2 separate regions of the Homo sapiens genome follow, and region 1 is linked to region 2. The links come from fine-mapping of genetic effects on gene expression. A gene starts in region 2. The other region holds a variant in brackets. All regions are shown on one strand. Distances are between the middles of the regions. Region 1 overlaps ZNF841 (zinc finger protein 841). Region 2 holds the start of ZNF614 (zinc finger protein 614).

Evidence for each region.
Region 1: its variant is fine-mapped to the expression of ZNF614 in monocytes after R848 (Quach 2016, PIP 0.95).

Annotation. Positions count from the first base shown.
Region 1 is chr19:52,064,184-52,073,406 of GRCh38, forward strand. ZNF841 (zinc finger protein 841) reads right to left here. Exons shown (of 7, transcript NM_001136499.2): 7 at 282-3,427. The coding sequence ends at 924. Among named protein-coding and RNA genes, the nearest start is that of ZNF432, 20 kb to the left of the region's middle. RefSeq lists enhancers at 831-2,030, 5,947-7,146. The variant CA/C (reference allele first, on the strand shown) is at 4,485.
Region 2 is chr19:52,023,366-52,032,805 of GRCh38, forward strand. It overlaps ZNF614 (zinc finger protein 614), which reads right to left and starts at 5,014. Exons shown (of 5, transcript NM_025040.4): 1 at 4,877-5,014; 2 at 2,366-2,596. The coding sequence starts at 2,380. ZNF432 (zinc finger protein 432) reads right to left here. Exons shown (of 5, transcript NM_014650.4): 5 at 8,013-9,440. It overlaps LOC112268244 (a long non-coding RNA gene), which reads left to right and starts at 3,034. Exons shown (of 2, transcript XR_002958414.2): 1 at 3,034-3,173; 2 at 3,747-6,415. RefSeq lists enhancers at 3,501-4,271, 4,742-5,501.

The DNA.
Region 1 (9,223 bases), 41 kb after region 2:
AATACAAAAAAAATTAGCCGGGCGCGGTGGCGAGCGCCTGTAGTCCCAGCTACTCGGGAGGCTGAGGCAGGAGAATGGCGTGAACCCAGGAAGCAGAGCTTGCAGTGAGCCGAGATTGCGCCACTGCAGTCCGCAGTCCCGCCTGGGCGACAGAGCGAGACTCCGTCTCCAAAAAAAAAAAAAAAAAAAAAAAAAAAAAAAAAAAACTTAGCTATATTCACTCCATGTGTAAATATATTAGGCCATAATTGCATGGCTAGACAGAAATACCTGAGGCTAGGTAATGTATAAAGAGGTTTAATTGACTCACAATTTTGCAGGCTTTATAGGAAACATGGCGCTGACGTCTGTTCACCCTCTCGGGAAACCTGAGGAAGGTTAAAATGATGGTGGGAGGTGAAGGGCATGTCACATGGCCAGAAGAACAAACAAGAGGGAGGTGCCATTCACTTTCGTGCGTGCGTGTGCGTGATGGAGTCTCACTCTGTCACCCAGGCTAGAGTGCAGTGGCGCGATCTCGGCTCACTGCAACCTCCGCCTCCAGGGTTCAAGCAATTCTCCTGACTCAGCCTCTCGAGTAGCTGGTACTACCAGTACCCGCCACGAAGCCCAGCTAATTTTTGTATTTTTGGCAGAAACAGGGTTTCACCATGTTGGCCAGGCTGCTCTTGAACTCCTGACCTCAAGTGATCCGCCCACCTCAGCCTCCCAAAGTGCTGGGATTACAGGCATGAGCCAGACCTCATGAGAACTATCACAAGGACAGCAACAAGGGGATGGTACTAAAACTTTCTTGAGAAAGCCACCCCCATCATCCAATCACCTCCCACTAGGCTCCACCTCCAATACTGGAGATTACTACAATTCCACATGAGACTTCAAAGGGAAAGGACAAATATACAAGCTATATGAGTAAGTATAAATTATTTGGGGATCCCAGAGGTTAGGACAACATCTAACGGCCTTTCCACATTGAGTTTAGTTGTAAGGTTCTCTCCAGCATGTTTTATCTGATGTTTAGTGAGGCCTGAGCGACTAATGTAAGATTTGCCACACTCATTACATTTATAAGGTTTTTCACTAGAATGAATTCGTTGGTGTTTAGTGAGGCAAGACCGCCGCCCAAACGCCTTGCCACATTCCATACATTTGTATGGCTTCTCTCCAGTATGGTTTCTCTGATGGTAAACCAAGTTTGACCTTTCGATAAAAGCTTTACCACATTCATTACATTTATAAGGTTTCTCTCCAGTATGCATCATCTGATGATTAAGCAGAATTGAACGTACTCTAAAGGCTTTGCCACACTCATTACATTTGTAAGGTTTCTCTCCAGTATGAATACTCCAATGACGTGCGAGGCCTGAGCGATAACGGAAGACCTTGCCACATTCATTACATTTGTAAGGTTTCTCTCCAGTATGAATTCTCCGATGCCTTGCCAGGGTTGTAGTGGAGTTAAAGACTTTCCCACATTCAATACATTTGTATGGCATCTCTCCAGTATGTCTTCTCTGATGGTACACCAGACTTGTTTTATGACTAAAAGTTCTACCACATTCACTACATTTGTGTGGTTTCTCCCCAGTAGGATTTCTGTGATATCTTGCAAGTTTTGAACTTTGGATAAAAGCCTCACCAAATTCATTACAGTGGTAAGGGTTCTCTCCAGTATGAATTACCAGATGTTTAGTGAGGCTTGAACGCTGAGTATAGGCTTTGCCACAATCATTACATTTATAAGGTTTCTCTCCGGTATGAATTTTCCGATGACGTGCTAGGCATGAGTAGTAACTGAAGACCTTGCCGCATTCGTTACACTGGAAAGGTTTCTCTCCGGTATGACTTCGCCTATGAATTGAAAGGTTTCCACTGTCAATGAAGACCTTGCCACACACATTACATTTGTAAGGTTTCTCTCCGGTATGCATTCTTTGATGACGTGCTAGGCATGAATAGTAAGTGAAGACCATGCCACATTTATTACAATGGAGAGGTTTCTCTCCAGTATGACATCTCATATGAACCGAAAGGTATCCACCGTAATTAAAGACCTTGCCACACACATTACATTTGTAAGGTTTCTCTCCGGTATGAATTCTCTGATGTACAGTTAGTAATGAGCCCCAATTAAAGGCTTTGCCACATTCATTACATTTGTAAGGTTTCTCTCCAGTATGAACTCTCTGATGCACTGCAAGATGTGAATGTTGACTGAAGACCTTGCCACATTCATTACATTTGTAGGGTTTCTCTCCAGTATGAATTCTCCGGTGCCCTGCAAGACGTGAACGTTGAAAGAAGACCTTGCCACATTCATTACATTTGTAAGGTGTCTCTCCAGTATGAATTATCTGGTGCCTTACAAGTTGTGAATTCTGATAAAAGACCTTGCCACATACATCACATGTATATGGTTTCTTTCCTGCATGGATTATATGATGTGCAGTGAGGCTTGAGTTCCGTTTAAAGGTTTTGCCACATTCATTACATTTGTAGGGTTTGTCTCCAGTATGAACTGTCTGATGAGTTGCAAGAGAGGAACTTTGACTAAAGCACTTCCCACATCGATTACATTTGTAAGGTTTCTCTCCAGTATGAATTCTCTGATGAACTGCAAGGTGGGAACTTTTACTAAAGGACTTGCCACATTCATTACATATGTAGGGTTTGTCTCCAGTGTGACTTCTCCGGTGATTTACAAGATCTGAATTTTGTCTGAAGATCCTGCCACATACATCACATTGGTATGGTTTCCCTCTTGTATGGACTATCTGATGTACTGTTAGTAGTGAGCCCCGATGAAAGGCTTTACCAGACTCATTGCATCTGTAAGGTTTCTCTGTAGTATGTATCATCTGATGATTAATAAGACTTGAAGACACTCTGAAGGCTTTGCCACACTCATTACCTATGTAAGGTTTTTCCCTAATATGTGTTTTCTCGTCTTGTGTAGGTAACGAAAGTTGCAAAAAATCATTCCCATATTTCCTAGAAATGTTGGTTTGGACACCAGGAAAAATTCTTTGAAGTGGTGAAGCTAAAAAACAATTATTAACTGTCCTCTCAATTTGATTACATCCATAAATTTTCTCTGCAGTTTGAAATTTCTGCAATTCACCCAGACCGGACTGAAACCTTAATATAAGCTGATTTTCCATATGCTTGTTTTCTACGTCCCCTTGACTATGTCGAACTCTTTGACCAGTAAGATTGTTTTTATGGGTCATCGGCCCTTCTTTATAATTTATTTCACCATCTTTCCATTGAAAGTCAACTTCCTGTAGATTTTTCCGGATTTCCCTGAAGTAAAAATTTTCAGTGTCATAGCTTTCATGTCCTTCCAACATCACTGCTTGGAATTTTTCTCCTGTGTTACTGTTCTGTATTGGTGGTAATTCCTTGATCACACATTTAGGAGAGATACCTGCAAAATATAATGAACATGGGGTTTTAAAATAACTATTATTGGTAAATATTATTTTATACTGAAAACACACTACGCTAAACATAATGTTTATACTAGCAAGTTGTGAAACTTTTCTACCATGATCTTCTATTTGTAGAAATGCAAAATGAATAGAATTCTATAGTAAAGAAAAAGTGATTACATGTAATTTAAATCAATTTTAGGAAAGCCTAGTTTCAAACATCCTTCGACCAAAAGACTCATGTTATGCAAACATATATGAGCACCAAAACAAGTATTTTGCAATCGCTGACCCCAAATGACACACCAATTGGCAGTAAACATATGGCTCCCTCATAATAGGAGAGAAAAAAAGTTACATATATTTATTTCATACAAATGAATGCCAAGCAACAGCAAGATATACTGTAATGGTAAATATTAACTAATAAATAATCATAATATAAATTAATTAATAAAACATTCTAATAGCCTGTGATAAAACCAGCAGGTAAATAATGAACAACCACAAAATACAAATCTATAGTATGAAATTCTAAACAATTCTCCATCAATAATAAGCAAGAATTTATATTCTAGAGGCAGTATATAACTAGAAAATATGTTGAGATCACTGGCTTTTAAAGATAAAAGAAAGGTAAATATGTCTATGGCCATACCACCGTGAATGCATCTGATCTTGTCTGATCTCAGAAACTAAGCAGTGTCAGAACTGGTTAGTACTTGGATGAGAGAAAGGTAAATATATAAAATAATAAAGAATAAAAATTGGGGACAGGTCAGCCGGGCACGGTGGCTCAAGCCTGTAATCCCAGCACTTTGGGAGGCCGAGGTGGGTGGATCACGAGGTCAGGAGTTCAAGACTAGCTTGGCCAACATGGTGAAATCTCGTCTGTACTAAAAGTAAAAAAAATCAGCCGGGTGTGGTGGCACGTGCCTGTAATCCCAGCTACTCCGGAGCCTGAGACAGGAGAATCATTGGAACCCAGGAGGCGGAGGTTGCAGTGAGCCAAGATTTCGCCACTGCACTCCAGCCTGGGCGACAGAGCAGTCT[CA/C]AAAAAAAAAAAAAAAATGGAGACAGGTATGGTGGCTCAGACCTATAATCCCAGCATTTTGAGAGGCCAAGGTGGGCAGATCACTTGAGGCCAAGAGTTTGAGACTAGCCAGGCCAACATGGTGAAACCTCATCTCTACTAAAAATATAAAACATTAGCCAAGCGTGGTGATGCATGCCTGTAATCCCAACTACTCAGGAGGCTGAAGCACGAGAATCACATAAACCTGTAAGGGGGAGGTTGCAGTCAGCCAAGATCACGACACTGCACTTCAGCCTGGGCAACAGAGCGAGACTGCCTCAAAAAAAGAATAAAACTTGGGAAAGGAAATCAGAAATCTCAGTTATGATTTCATGCCTACAACTATGTAACAAACAACAGAGCAAGTCCCTATGTATTCATTGTCTTTTTTTGCTTTTGGCTGAGATGGAGTCTCACTCTGTCACCCAGGCTGGAGTACAGTGGCATGATCCCACCTCACTGCAACCTCCAACTCACAGGCTCAAGCGATCCTCCCACCTCAGCCTCCTGAGAGCTGGGACCACAGATGCATGCCATCATGCCCGGTTAATTTTTTTGTAGTTTTGGTAGAGATGAGGTTTTGCCATGTTGCCCAGGCTGGTCTGGAACTCCTAAGCTCAAACAATCTGCCCACCTCTGCCTCCCAAAGTGCTGGGATTATAGGCATGAGCCACCGTGCCCAGTCCTATTCACTGTCTTTATTATCCAGTTCCTTGGCCACAAAATATATATGATACAGAGATTGTACTTGGAAAATGCATGAACTGAGATAAAAGACAACACCGTTTGGACCAAACTGCAAAATGAAAACTTACAGATACAATGTAGACTGCTCTGATATAAAGACTTATGTCTGCCAAAATTCCTATGTTAAGGCCCCATCCTCAATGTGATAGTATTTGGAAGTGTGGTCTTTGGAAGGCAATTAGGTCAGGATGGTGCATAGAACTTCAGGAATGCAATTAGCAGAAACGTGAAAAAGCCTCTGCTTTTTGCATGACAATCTCTCTGCCACATGAGAACACAGAGTCAGCCATGGCACACCAGAAAAAAGTCCACACCAAGAACCAAAGTGGCTGGCTCTGACATGTTGAACTTTGCACCACCCAGATCTGTGAAAAGTCCATTTCTGCTGTTTAAACCACCCTATCTATGGTATCTGATATAGCTAGTCATGCTGACTAAGGTAAAGCCAATATGCTATCTCATTATAAACATGAAACAATGTTGATACACGTTATTAAACAAATTTGTGAGTCTGTACTATAAAACATGCAATATTCTAAGCTAGCTAACAGCATTAACTTGTTTAAAAAGTCTTTAGGTAAATTATCACTATTTAACAAACAAGCACACTAAATATGCCCACAGGATTTATGTATCTATACCCAATTTACAAAGAAAGTAAGACACAAGAACCTGGGTTTGCAAGATCAAACATGTTTTTTAAAAACAACTTCCCAAACAAGCAGTGCAGATAACAGGTCAACCCAAATATCAAGAGTGTAGAAATACTTCAAGAGCCATTTTGTGTAGAGCACCTGATTCTGTCGCTGTTCAGGGTGCCACTATGTAACCCACATGGACCTAGGAGGACTGAACAAAGGGGGCGAATGCGGGAATAAAAGACAAGAGACAAAAGAGTATATTTGGAAGAAGGGGTCAGGGGCACCTTGCCTGTAGTGGACAAGGGCCCTGAGCTTTACACAGCCGTCCGTATTTATTAGGCAAGAGAGATAGTGAGAAGGATGGTGGAAGAAGGGGTCAGCTGCGCAGTCCAGAGTAGGCTTGCAAGACTGCATTCCTCAAACAACAGGCTCTAGATATGGCAGTAGATAACCCTGGCACCAGGAAGTGATTGCCTCCAGCAAACCTTCTGTCAGCAGGAGCAGTCATGAGTTTGCCCACATCCTGCATTCATGATAAACAGTTTGCTGTTTGATCATATAGCCTCCAGTGGAATGCTGAGTTGGTCACGTCCCACAGGCTTTGGCTCCCTGCAATGCTGTGTTGCCAAAAGCATTATTCAGCCATCCGTCATGAATAACGAACGGTATCTGAGTCATCATCCCCTGCACATATTGATTTACGCAGTGTTATCAGACAGTGGTCAAGTGAATGAGTAGGGGTCACCCCTTACAGAGTGAGAGTAGCATGGGAGGTGAGGGAGTTCTGCAATAATGGGAGTATAAAATTAATATGCTAGTCAGTAACTGGGTAGTCCATCTGGACAAAGTAATATGTTAGGAAAGGCCCAGGAGGACAAAGGGCAAGAGGGGAGATCAAGGAGTAATGAGCATGGAGCAGCAGGGTTTGTGCTTGAAGAGCTGTGGGAATAGAATTGCACAAGAAACAGCTAAAATCCTGGCTTTGGAAGAAAAGAGAAACTAATGTAGAGGTAGTATTGTACTGACTAATACTTAAACATGAGAATTATACTATGGGTGCAGGACAACAAGGGAAGACAATTAAAAAGGAGGCGGTGTGATGATATGGGAAGAAAACAGATTTATGTCTCTATAATATTTGCTATGAAATTTATCAAACTGAATGTCCCATAAGTTCTATTTCCAGGTATATGCTCAACAACCCTACATATCAAGAGATATGTGAAAGACTGTTCTTACAATTCAATCCTTAAGAAAAAACCTGAAAATGGCCACGAAGAGGAGATGGATGAATTCATTTTGTACACACACAAAGACACCACAAAACTTTACTGATAGTACAAGAACGTTAAGGAGACGGGGTGCAGAATGAGGACCCGTAGCACAACAGGCAAAGATTTGAGAAAACAAAGAAAGCAGGAGACTCTTGTCAAGGTTTAAATATATGTTAATGGAGACACAGTATATACGATGAAAGTATCCTGGGATATCAAAAACACAACATGGAAGCAGATCTGTAAAAAGTCATTTCTGTATGTAATTGAAGTTAAGCTGTTATTAGTTTAAAATAGGATGTTATAAATCTAAAGTGTTTTCTGTAATTGCAACGGTAACCACAGAGAATGTATAGAAGACACACACAATGGAAATAAAACTATTTCAGGAAAAAAAAATCAACTATATAAAAACGAAGGCAGTAAGACAAACAGAACAAAAAAATCTAAAAGAGATATAGAAAGCACTTAACACAATGGCAATATAAGTCCTTTTCTATCAGTAATTACATTAAATGTAAGTGTTTATACTCCACAGTCAAAAGACAGAGACTGGCTGAATAAATTTTTAAAACTGGCTTCAGCTGCACACTATCCAGAAAATACTCATTTTAATTCAAAGGACACACATAGGCTGAACTGAAGGGATGAAAAAAGATATGCCCTCAAAATGTTAACCGAAAGACATCAGAGGTGGCTAAACTGATGTCAGCCAAAATAGACTTTATGTCAAAACTGGTACAAGAGACAAAGAAGGGCATTATATAATGATTAAAAGGTTAATTCACTAGGAGGATATAACAATATGTGCCTATATAGAGATCCTCAATATGTGAAGCAAAATTAACGTAACTAAAGGGAGAAGTAGTTCCACAGTAATAATAAGAGACTTCAATGGCCTATTTTTACTTATAAATAGGACAATCAGACAGAAGAAAAACAAGGAACTAGAGAACCTAAACTATATATCAAGTTGAACCTAACCTATATATGCATAACACATCACCCAAAAACAGTGCAATACAAATTTTTCAGAACTGCACATGAAACATTTTTCAAAAGAAATATCGGAAAAGAAAAAAAATTTTAAACTTTTTAAAGACTAAAATCGTAAAGCATAACTTATCCCATCATAATAAAATAAAACTAGAGATCAACAGCAGAAGAAAATTAGATTATCAACAAATATGTGGAAACAACATACTCTTAGGCCGGTGTGGTGGCTCACGCCTGTAATCCCAGCAATTTGGGTGGCTGAGGCAGGTGGATCACCTGAGGTCAGGAGTTCGAGACCAGCCTGGCCAACATAGTGAAACCCTCAGCCAAGCATGGTGGCAGATGCCTGTAATCCCAGCTACTCGGGAGGCTGAGGCAGGAGAATCGCTTGAACCCAGGAAGTGGAGGTTGCAGTGAGCCGAGATTGCACCACTGCACTCCAGCCTGGACAACAAGAGCGTAACTCCGTCTCAAAAAACAAAAACAAACAAACAAGGACCATACTCTTAAACAGCCAATATGTCAAATTAGAAATCACAAGGGAAATTTTAAAAATCTCAAAACAAAGGAAAATGAAAATAGAACATACCAAAACTTGTGAATGCAGGAAAAACAGTGCTAAGATAGAAAATCTGCAGATATAAATGCTAACATTAAAACAGAAGATATCCAATGGAACAGAATAGGAAACCCAGAAATACAGCCACACACCTACAACCAACTGATCCTTGATAGTCAAAAAAAAATTGGGAAAAGACATTCTATTCAATAAAGGGTGCTAGAAAAACTGGCTAGCCATATATAGAAGAATGAAACTGGACTCCTATCTCTTGTCATATACAAAAATTAATTCAAGATGAATAACGACTTACATTAAGTCTTCAAGCTACAAAAATTCTAGAAGAAAATCTAGGAAAAACTTTTCTGGACAAAATACAAGTTGTTGTTTTTTTTTCTTTTTTTTTTTTAGAGACAGGGTCTTGCTCTGTCGCCCAGGCTGAAGTACAGCAGTGTGATCTCAGCTCAATGCAACCTCTGCCTACTGGCTTCAAGCAATTC
Region 2 (9,440 bases):
ACCATGTAGGCCAGGATGGTCTCGATCTCTTGACCTCATGATCCGCTCGGGATTACAGGCGCGAGCCCCCATGCCCAGCCTGTTCAAGAGTTTTTATAGAACTTACTCTCCAGTCCATTCCTCCTTTCAGTTCCAATCCTCTAATTGCTTGGTCTTTCTGGGGACCAGTCTCATCCTGACACTATCTAGAGGTCTCATGAGTAGTCACCTCATGAGCAGAAATTCAGGTGTATCACAGGGTTTCCTTATGAATAACAAAAGACACACCTATTTCTCAGGAAGAAATTCCAAGGGTTTTAAGCATACTGTGCCATGAACTGGGAACAATGACCAAATATACTTATCCGTGTCACTTTCTATATACCAGACTGTGAAAAATAAATATACATTTGGTCTCTGCCCTCCAAATCTTTGGAATTGCTGAAGTGTCTTTTATATGCTATTGAGATGACTGGTGCCTGGGGCTCTTCCATGGCCTCAGGAAGGGAGCTGGTTGCCAGGGGAACCAACCTTGTGACAGACAGTTGGAACTTTCAGTCTCACCTCTCCAACCAACCCCTGACCTCTGTGGAAGGGAGAGGTGATGGAAATTGAGCTTACCACCAATAGTTAATGAATTAATAAATTATGCCTATGTAATGAACCCACCAAAACAATAAAAGGATGAGGTTGAGAGCTTCCAGGCTGCTGAACATAGGGTAGTCCTGGGAGGGTAGAATACCCAGAAAGGGCATGGAAGCCCTGAGGCCCTTCCCCATTACCTGACCTATGCATCTTTTCCAACTGGCCATTCCTGAGTTGTACCCTTTCATAATAAGCCAGTAATCTAGTAAGTAAACTGTCTTCCTGCATTTTTTGAGCCTTCTAGCAGATGAATAGATCTGAGAAGGGGGTTGTGGGGACATCCAATTGGTAGCCAAGTCCAAAAGAACTTGTGAGTAACCTGGGGACCCAGCACTTTTCAGGGGGGCAGTATTGTGGGACTGAGCCCTCAACCTGTGGAGTCTGTCCTAAGTCTAGACAATTAGTGTCAGAATTGAGTAAATTTTAGAATACCTAATAGGTATGGAGAATTGAATTGATGTGTGGGAAAAACCCCACATATCTGGTGTCAGATGTGGGGAAAAGAAAGAGAGATCAGACTGTTACTGTGTCTATGTAGAAAGAAGTAGACGTAAGAGACTTCATTTTGTTCTGTACTAAGAGAAATTCTTCTGCCTTGAGATGCTGTTAATCTGTAACCGTAGCCCTAACCCTGTGCTCGCAGAAATATGTGCTGTGTTGACTCAAGGTTTAATGGATTTAGGGCTATGCAGAATGTCCTTTGTTAAAAAAGCACTTGAAGGCAGTATGCTTGTTAAAAGTCATCACCATTCTCTAATCTCAAGTACCCAGGGACACAACACACTGCAGAAGGCCACAGGGGCCTCTGCCTAGGAAAGCCAGGTATTGTCCAAGGTTTCTTCCCAAGTGATAGCCTGAGATATGGCCTCGTGGGAAGGGAAAGACCTGACCGTCCCCCAGCATGACACCGGGGGATACCCGTAAAGGGTCTGTGCTGAGGAGGATTAGAAAAAGAGGAAGGCCTTTTTGCAGTTGAGATAAGAGGAAGGCATCTGTCTCCTGCCAACTACTTGGGAGGCTGAGGCAAGAGAATGGCGTGAACCTGGGAGGCAGAGCTTGCAGTGAGCCAAGACTGCGCCACTGCACTCCAGCCTGGGCAACAGAGCAAGACTCTGTCTCAAAATAAATAAATAAATAAATTAGTAATTTTAAAAAAGTTGGTTGGCAGGCACCAGCATGCAAAGAATGCCAATATTCCAAAAATGGTCTGGAGTATGTACATTAAAATGACAACCATAGTTCCTTCTTGAGTGGTGGGTGATTCATGTATCATTGTAATGGTCAAAAGTTGAACTACCAACAAAGCATGGATTCTTTCATATTGAGTCTACTTTTTTTTCCTTCTTTTTGAGACAGGGTCTTACTTTGTCACCCAGGTTGGAGTGCGGTGGTGCAAACATGGCTCACTGTAGCCTCGTCCTCCTGAGCTCTAGCAATTCTTCTCCCACCTTAGCCTCCCGAGTAGCTGGGATTACAGGTGTGCACCACCACACCCAGCTAATTTTTGTATTTTTTGTAGAGACGGGGTTTCACCATGTTGCCCAGGCTGGTCTTGAACTCCTGAGCTCAAGCGATCCAGAATCTACTTCTTAAGGCAGAATGAACCCCCACCTCTACTCCCAAAAGCAATGTAAGTTAATTTCTCCCTAGAACACAATTATCCCAGTATATACTTCCTTAAGTTCAACTGACTTCTTCAGGCCACCATAAATCTATCAAAAAATCAAAGGGAAAATATCACCTGGGTCTTGATCATTTTCTTCTGTGCTCAGAAAATAGTGGATAACATGGACTATACGTCTTTGTCTCTTCTGCATTTGCCATGAAGTTTTTGAAGTTTTCCTAGTCAGAAATATTAGTGTCCACTTAAAGTTGTCCCCAGAAATTATGATATCCAAGGCCAGCAACCTCCTTCTTCTTCCTTCATTGCTTCACTTGAGTTATTTTGCTTCTGGGAGCCAGGACCTGAGGACTGATAAACAAAATGGCTTTCAGTGTACATTAACCCTGGGTCCAGACATTGTCACTGCTGCTCTGCACTTACCTTAAATAAAAGACCCTAATATTTCTAACAGTTCCTTTATTTGCTGCCTCAGAGGTTTTCATGGTTCTAAATGTGTGAAATCTATGCCTTTCTTTTGTGAAGTAGAAGTGGCATGACTATTATAGAGAAGGTGGGAAAGCAGAACCAGCACAGCACAATGCCTCAGAGGCAGGTGTCTGGGGAAAAGAAAGAGAGATCAGACTGTTACTGTGTCTATGCAGAAAGAAGTAGACATAAGAGGCTCCATTTTGTTCTGTACTAAGAGAAATTCTTCTGCCTTGAGATGCTGTTAATCTGTAACCCTAGCTCCAACCCTATGCTAGCAGAGACATGTGCTGTGTTGACTCAAGGTTTAATGGATTTAGGGCTGTGCAGGATGTGCTTTGTTAAAAACGTGCTTGAAGGCAGTATGCTTGGTAAAAGTCATCACCATTCTCTAATCTCAACTACCCAGAGACACAATACACTGCGGAAGGCCGCGGGGACCTCTGCCTAGGAAAACCAGGTATTGTCCAAGGTTTCTCCCCATATGATAGCCTGAGATATGGCCTCGTGGGAAGGGAAAGACCTGACCGTCCCCTACCCCGACACCTGTAAAGGGTCTCTGCTGAGGAGGATCAGTAAAAGAGGAAGGCCTCTTTGCGGTTGAGATAAGAGAAAGGCATCTGTCTCCTCCTCGTCCCTGGGAATGGAATGTCTCCGTGTAAAACCCCATTGTCTGTTCTATTTACTGAGATAGGAGAAAACCGCCTTAGGGCTGGAGGTGAGACATGCTGGTGGCAATACTGCTCTTTATTGTACCGAAATGTTTGTGTGCGTGCACATCAAGGCACAGCACGTTTCCTTAAACTTATTTATGACACAGAGACCTTTGTTCACATGTTTTCCTGCTGACCCTCTCCCCACTATTACCTTATTGTCCTGCCACATCCCCCTCTCCGAGGTGGTAGAGATAGTGATCAATAAATACTGAGGGAACTCAGAGACCAGTGCCAGCGTGGGTCCTCCGTATGCTGAGTGCTGGTCTCCTGGGCCCACTTTTCTTTCTCTATACTTTGTCTCTTATTTCTTTTCTCAGTCTCTCATCCCACCTGACAAGAAACACCCACAGGTTGTGGAGGGGTGGCCCCCTTCAAGGTGAATTCTCAGACAGATCAATTTTAGGAAAGAGAACACATGGAAGGCTCCAAGAATGTCTTTAAAAACCACGTGTGCCCATGTACTGGTTCGAAAGTCTCTGTAAGCTCTTTGGGTATACATACCTCGTGTCAAGACCAATGTACTAAGCAAATCACAAGAACTGTCTCATTTCACATTATGCGCTAAAGGAGTAACTTTACCCAAGAGAGCTTTGTCCTTTGCCCACAGTTCCTATGAGGCAAACTCTAAGCCTTTGGAATACGCTGCTTGATAAAACTGTCTTTGGTTATCAGGGCAATTTAAGCCATGCCAAATTGTCTATCCTAATAATGTGATTTACTGTGGGAGACCTTGGACCACGTGGTATTAGTTTGATATCTGGAGGAGCTGGAGATTGAAGTCAGCCTCATAGGCAGTCAATTGTGTGTGTGTGTGTTAACTGATATCCAATAAAACTCTGGACACCAAGGCCTAGGTGAGTGGCAACAATGGTTACAATGGCTGGCAATAATAATATAAGGGTGTATATATAAGAATATGATAATTTAAAAACGTATGAAGCAAAACAGAATGAGAGAGGATTAGACAATTCAACAATAATAATTGAAGACTACATTACCCTACTTGCAATAATAAAGAAAACAAATAGAAACTCAGCAAGGATACCGAAAACTTGAACAACATTATCAACCAACTAGACTTAACGAACATTTAACACTGCACTCAACAGCAGTAAAATAAACATTTTTTTCAAGAGCACATGTTATATTCTTCAGGAAAGATAATATCCCATGTGATAGCCTGAGATAGGGCCTCATGGGAAGGGAAAGACCTGACCGTCCCCCAGCCCAACACCCGTAAAGGGTGACTCACAAGGGCCCCAGACCCAGACAGAGTCGGACTCGTCGCTGATTTCCTCAGACTCTTCATCCCTACAGCCAAAGGACCCGTCATTAACGCCCCGCTTCCTCAGCGACTGCGTTCAAATACAGCCCCAATCAGGACGCTCCACGCACCATCGGTACACAGACCCACAGGCCGCGAGTCCATGCCCAGAACTCGACTCACCCGAGCCCGAACCTCTCCAGACACCACTGGCAGCGACAAAACGCCGCATCCACGTCCGAAAACGCTTCCTATTCAGACGCGCTCCTGCGCGGACTCCGGGAAGCTGAGCGGTAAAGACCGTGAAGCGAGGCGAGGACCACGGAGCCTGCCCGGGATCGCGAGTTCAGACTGCGGGCGCCGCTCTATGAGGTCACAGGGCTGCGCCCATCGCAGCGTTTCTGACAGGAGCGGCCATAATGGCTGTGGGAATCACTCTTAGTCACCTCAGTGCCTTTCTCTCTTCGTTGCAAGGGACACTCAAGAGTCGGGTGCCCAGCCAAGGCCAACACGGCGCAGTGGCATTCTATTCAGCCTGCTGTGGAAAAAAGATGGCGGCGCCCTTTGTGCCCATTATAGCTGAGAGTGGAGCCTTAGCTGGAGCACCATGGGCACGGCCATCTTAGAGGAAGGCAGCAGCCGTACGGCAGAGAAGATGCTCATATCCAGGACAATTTGGAAAAATAAACAAGGTTTGAAGAAGTCACGGTGCTGGCCAGGAAGCGGTCACAGAGTTGCCAAAACCAGTGGTCACTGAAAGTGTTAGATTTGGGGATAGGGCGGGGGTTCTGGGCTGGGTAAGGCTTTTGTGGGTTAGATTAGACTCTGACTGAATGGACGAAGCCGAGAACAGGAGTGATGCTCCATTAAATGCTAATACCCACATGGGGCTTGCTATTAAAACCACTGCCAGTGGGGAAGGGGATGAGGAGGTGAAGGTGCAACTGTGTTAATATCTACATGTTTCCTTCCAGAAGTAAAGGAAGATGACAGTGGGGCACTTAAGAATATGAAATTATTAGAATGCGATCATCCTACTTTGCAATGTTTCCAGATTTTTTAAAAAGTCACACTTAAAAAATATTAGTTCTATTTTTGCAGATGTTGGCGTTGTAACTGTAGAAGATTTAAGTAAATATTGTATTTTTGGAAGGCAACCTAGAGCCAATTTAATTTTTTCGTTTTCTTTGACACAGCAATTCTAAAAGCTATCTAGGCAAATCTGTCTTAATATTAACCACAACTTTTGTAATTTACAAAAAAAGGGAATTACAATGAGAGATGAATACTTTGGTAAATTATGGAACATCTGCTGAACTGTAAGAGTATATATCAATTTAAAAGAATATGCTACAATTGTTTTATAAAAAAGAAAACTTTGTCAGAGGACAAAAAAATGATCTGCAGGATAGTATATATTTTATGGTCTTGTTATTGGAAGAAATCATAAACATCTTTTGGAAAATTGTGATTGGTTAAACAAGACATTTAGTTTGAATTAATATTGTTTGTGTTCATAGGTAGAGAATGCCATGTTTTTACTTGAAAAATATTCCCAATTTATACTTAATTTTACTATCTTTGTACCATAATCATGAATATATTATAAAACATGTTGATCTTAGAAAATAGGTATGATGATGTATAATAAGTTCATGGCATGATAAATGCAAAATAGGCTGTTTTCTTTCAGAAAATAAATATGCTCATGCATTTGAAAAATTCTGGAGAATATACTAACAATATTTGACTGTTCCGTACAATTATGGTGACTTAAAATTTCTTCATTTTACTTACGTTTTGTAATTTCTAGAGAATAAGAATTTCATGTTCGTATTTCTTGAGTGTTATAACATATTCCATCCAGGATTAAATTTCAGCCCCGTTCATCTGGAATGTTAATCTCTGGTAGGTAAGTTTAGCACCTGGTCCACAGGACTATGAGCAGCCCATGATGGGACCTTCACTGATCATTTCCAGGAGTGGGCTGATAAAACTTTGCCGTGGCAGGCTGTGCTGATTCACGGGACAAGGAAGGTGATTCAAGGGCCTGGTTGGTGGAGCACTTTTGTCTGATTCATTGCTGGAGACAATCTGCCCTGAATCCATCCTGTTACAGTGTGGGAATGGTGATGGGAGCACCAATCCACAATTTAGGGCAGAGATGTTCAAATTTAAGAAGGCTCTTTTTATAAATGCAGAGTCCGAACCCCATCCCCAGAAATTCTAGCTTGGAATGTCTGGGGAGTGACTCAAGAATTTGCCTTCTTTTACAAGCTTCTCAGAGAATGCTGAGGCAGGAACCCCAAAGAAAACACTTAGAAAGTTCTATAGTGTTCTGGACTTAAAAATATGATGGCTGTGTCCCCACAGTATATTTAGGCTTTGGTTCAAATTATATCTGCACAGAAAAGCCTATCCTGAAAACTCTTCCTAAAATAACTCAGGTTACAATCTATGAACTTACCAGGCTTTATATTTCTTCCTAGCACTTAACTGAATTCGATTTTGTATTTATCTTACTCAGTCTCCTTCACCAGACTGTATGTCATATCAAAGCCAGCACTTTGCCTGTTTTGTTCATTGATGTGTCTCCATTGCCTACAACATGCCTGCCATGGTGTAGAAGCTCAAAAAATATTTTCAAAGAAGTAAATTACTCAATATGGAGTCAGGGATTGAATTCTGCCACAATACTATATGGCAAATGTCTATTACTTTTATAAAGAGAACTCACCATTTATAAACTGGATTAAATCTCATTAGATCAAGGGAAATAACTCTGGATAGAGAAAACAGGAACCCTGTTTCTAGGGAAACTAATAATTTTTTGCCACCAGGCCTGCTCAAAGAGAAATGATTAAGGAAGTTCGCACAAAAAGGAAATAACTAAAGGAAATATTACATCAGGAATGAAGAAAAAGGAACAGAAAGGGTAAATATATTATAAAATATAATATTCTTTTGAGTTTTAAACATTGGGTTTGCTGGTTGGAAGCAAAAGTTACAATTTTACTTGATATGGTTCTCAGTGGATGTAGAGATGCTTAATATCATTTTGTGTTAGGGGTGTGTAAGTTGAGGCCATGATCATATACCACCACACACCTAATAGGAAAGCTAAAGCACACTGGCAATGCCAAGAGCTAGAAAGGGCATGGAATGCTTACACATTGGTGGTGGGAATGTAAACTAGTACAGCCACTCTGGGAAAGAGTTTGGCCATTTCTTATAAAGTTAAACACATTTACCATATTCGCCAGCAGTCATGCCCCCAGTGTCTATCCCAAATATATAAAAACTTAACGTTCGCACAATATCGGGTACACAAATAGTCACAGCATCTTTATTTATAACAGCAAAACACTGGAAACAACCCAAATGTCCATCAACAGTGAATGGATACACAAACCCTGGTGCATCCATTTAAAAGAATACTAACTCAGTAACAAAAATTAAAACTATTTAGACACCTAACAACTTGGATAGATCTTAAGGGTAATTTGCTGAGTGAACAAAGCCCTATCTCAAAGCTTGCGTACCTTACGATTCCATTTTAATAGCATTCTTGAAATAACAAAATTAGGGTAATGGGATCAGTGGCTACCATGGGTCATATTGGGAGGACAGTGTGAGTATAAAGAGGTAGCAAGAGGAGGCCAGGCGTGGTGGCTCATGCCTGTAATCCCAGCACTTTGGGAGGCTGAGGCGGGTGGACCGCCCGGGGTCGAGAGTTCAAGGCCAGCCTGGCCAACACAGTGAAACCCCGTCTCTACTAAAAATACAAAAATTAGTCGAGCGTGGTCGTGGGTGCCTGTAATCCCAGCTACTTAGGAGGCTGAGGCAGGAAAATCTCTTGAACCTGGGAGGCGGGGTTGCAGTGAGCCAAGATCGTGCTATTACACTCCAACCTGGGCAACAAGAGCAGAACTCCGTGGTTTTTATTATTATGGTTATGTAAGATAACATTGATGATGCTAAGCAAAGAATACTCAGGAAACTTTTGTATATTTTGTAATCTCTTGTGAATCTAGAATTATTTCAAAACAAATTTTAGAAAAATAACATTTAAGGCATTTTTGTAAACTACATAATGGTACCTAGTAACTTGGATAAACACATCCAAATATACTGAATTACATTTATCAGTAAATTGAAAAAAATAAATTTGGGGCCTATAATATGTAAGAACTAATAAATAACACCAGATTGGCACAGAAAACACCTGTGTTATATATAGGATTAAAATTTAATCAGTGATAAGAACAGCCCGCTTTACAATTATGGAATCATTGATAATATGATGCAAGGTATGCTGTCACAGAATAGATATCAAGTGTATCATGAGTTTAGATTTGTGACAGTCCTCAAATATGGTTTTTTTTTTTTTTTTTTGAGGCAGAGTTTCGCTCTTGTTGCCCAGGCTGGAATGCAATGGCGCAATCTTGGCTCACTGAAACCTCTGCCTCCCAGGTTCAAGTGATTCTCCAGCTTAGCCTCCAGAGTAGCTGGGATTACAAGCGTGAGCCACCATGCTCGGCTAATTTTGTATTTTTAGTAGAGAGGGGGGCTTCACCATGTTGGTCAGGCTGGTCTCGAACTCCCGACCTCAAGTGATCCACCCACCTTGGCCTCCCAAAGTGCTGGGATTACAGGTGCAAGCCACCATGCCCGGCATTATGTATCATTTTCATGAGACTTTTTTACTTCATGAATTTCCTGATCCTTTTTAAAGTTACTCTTCATA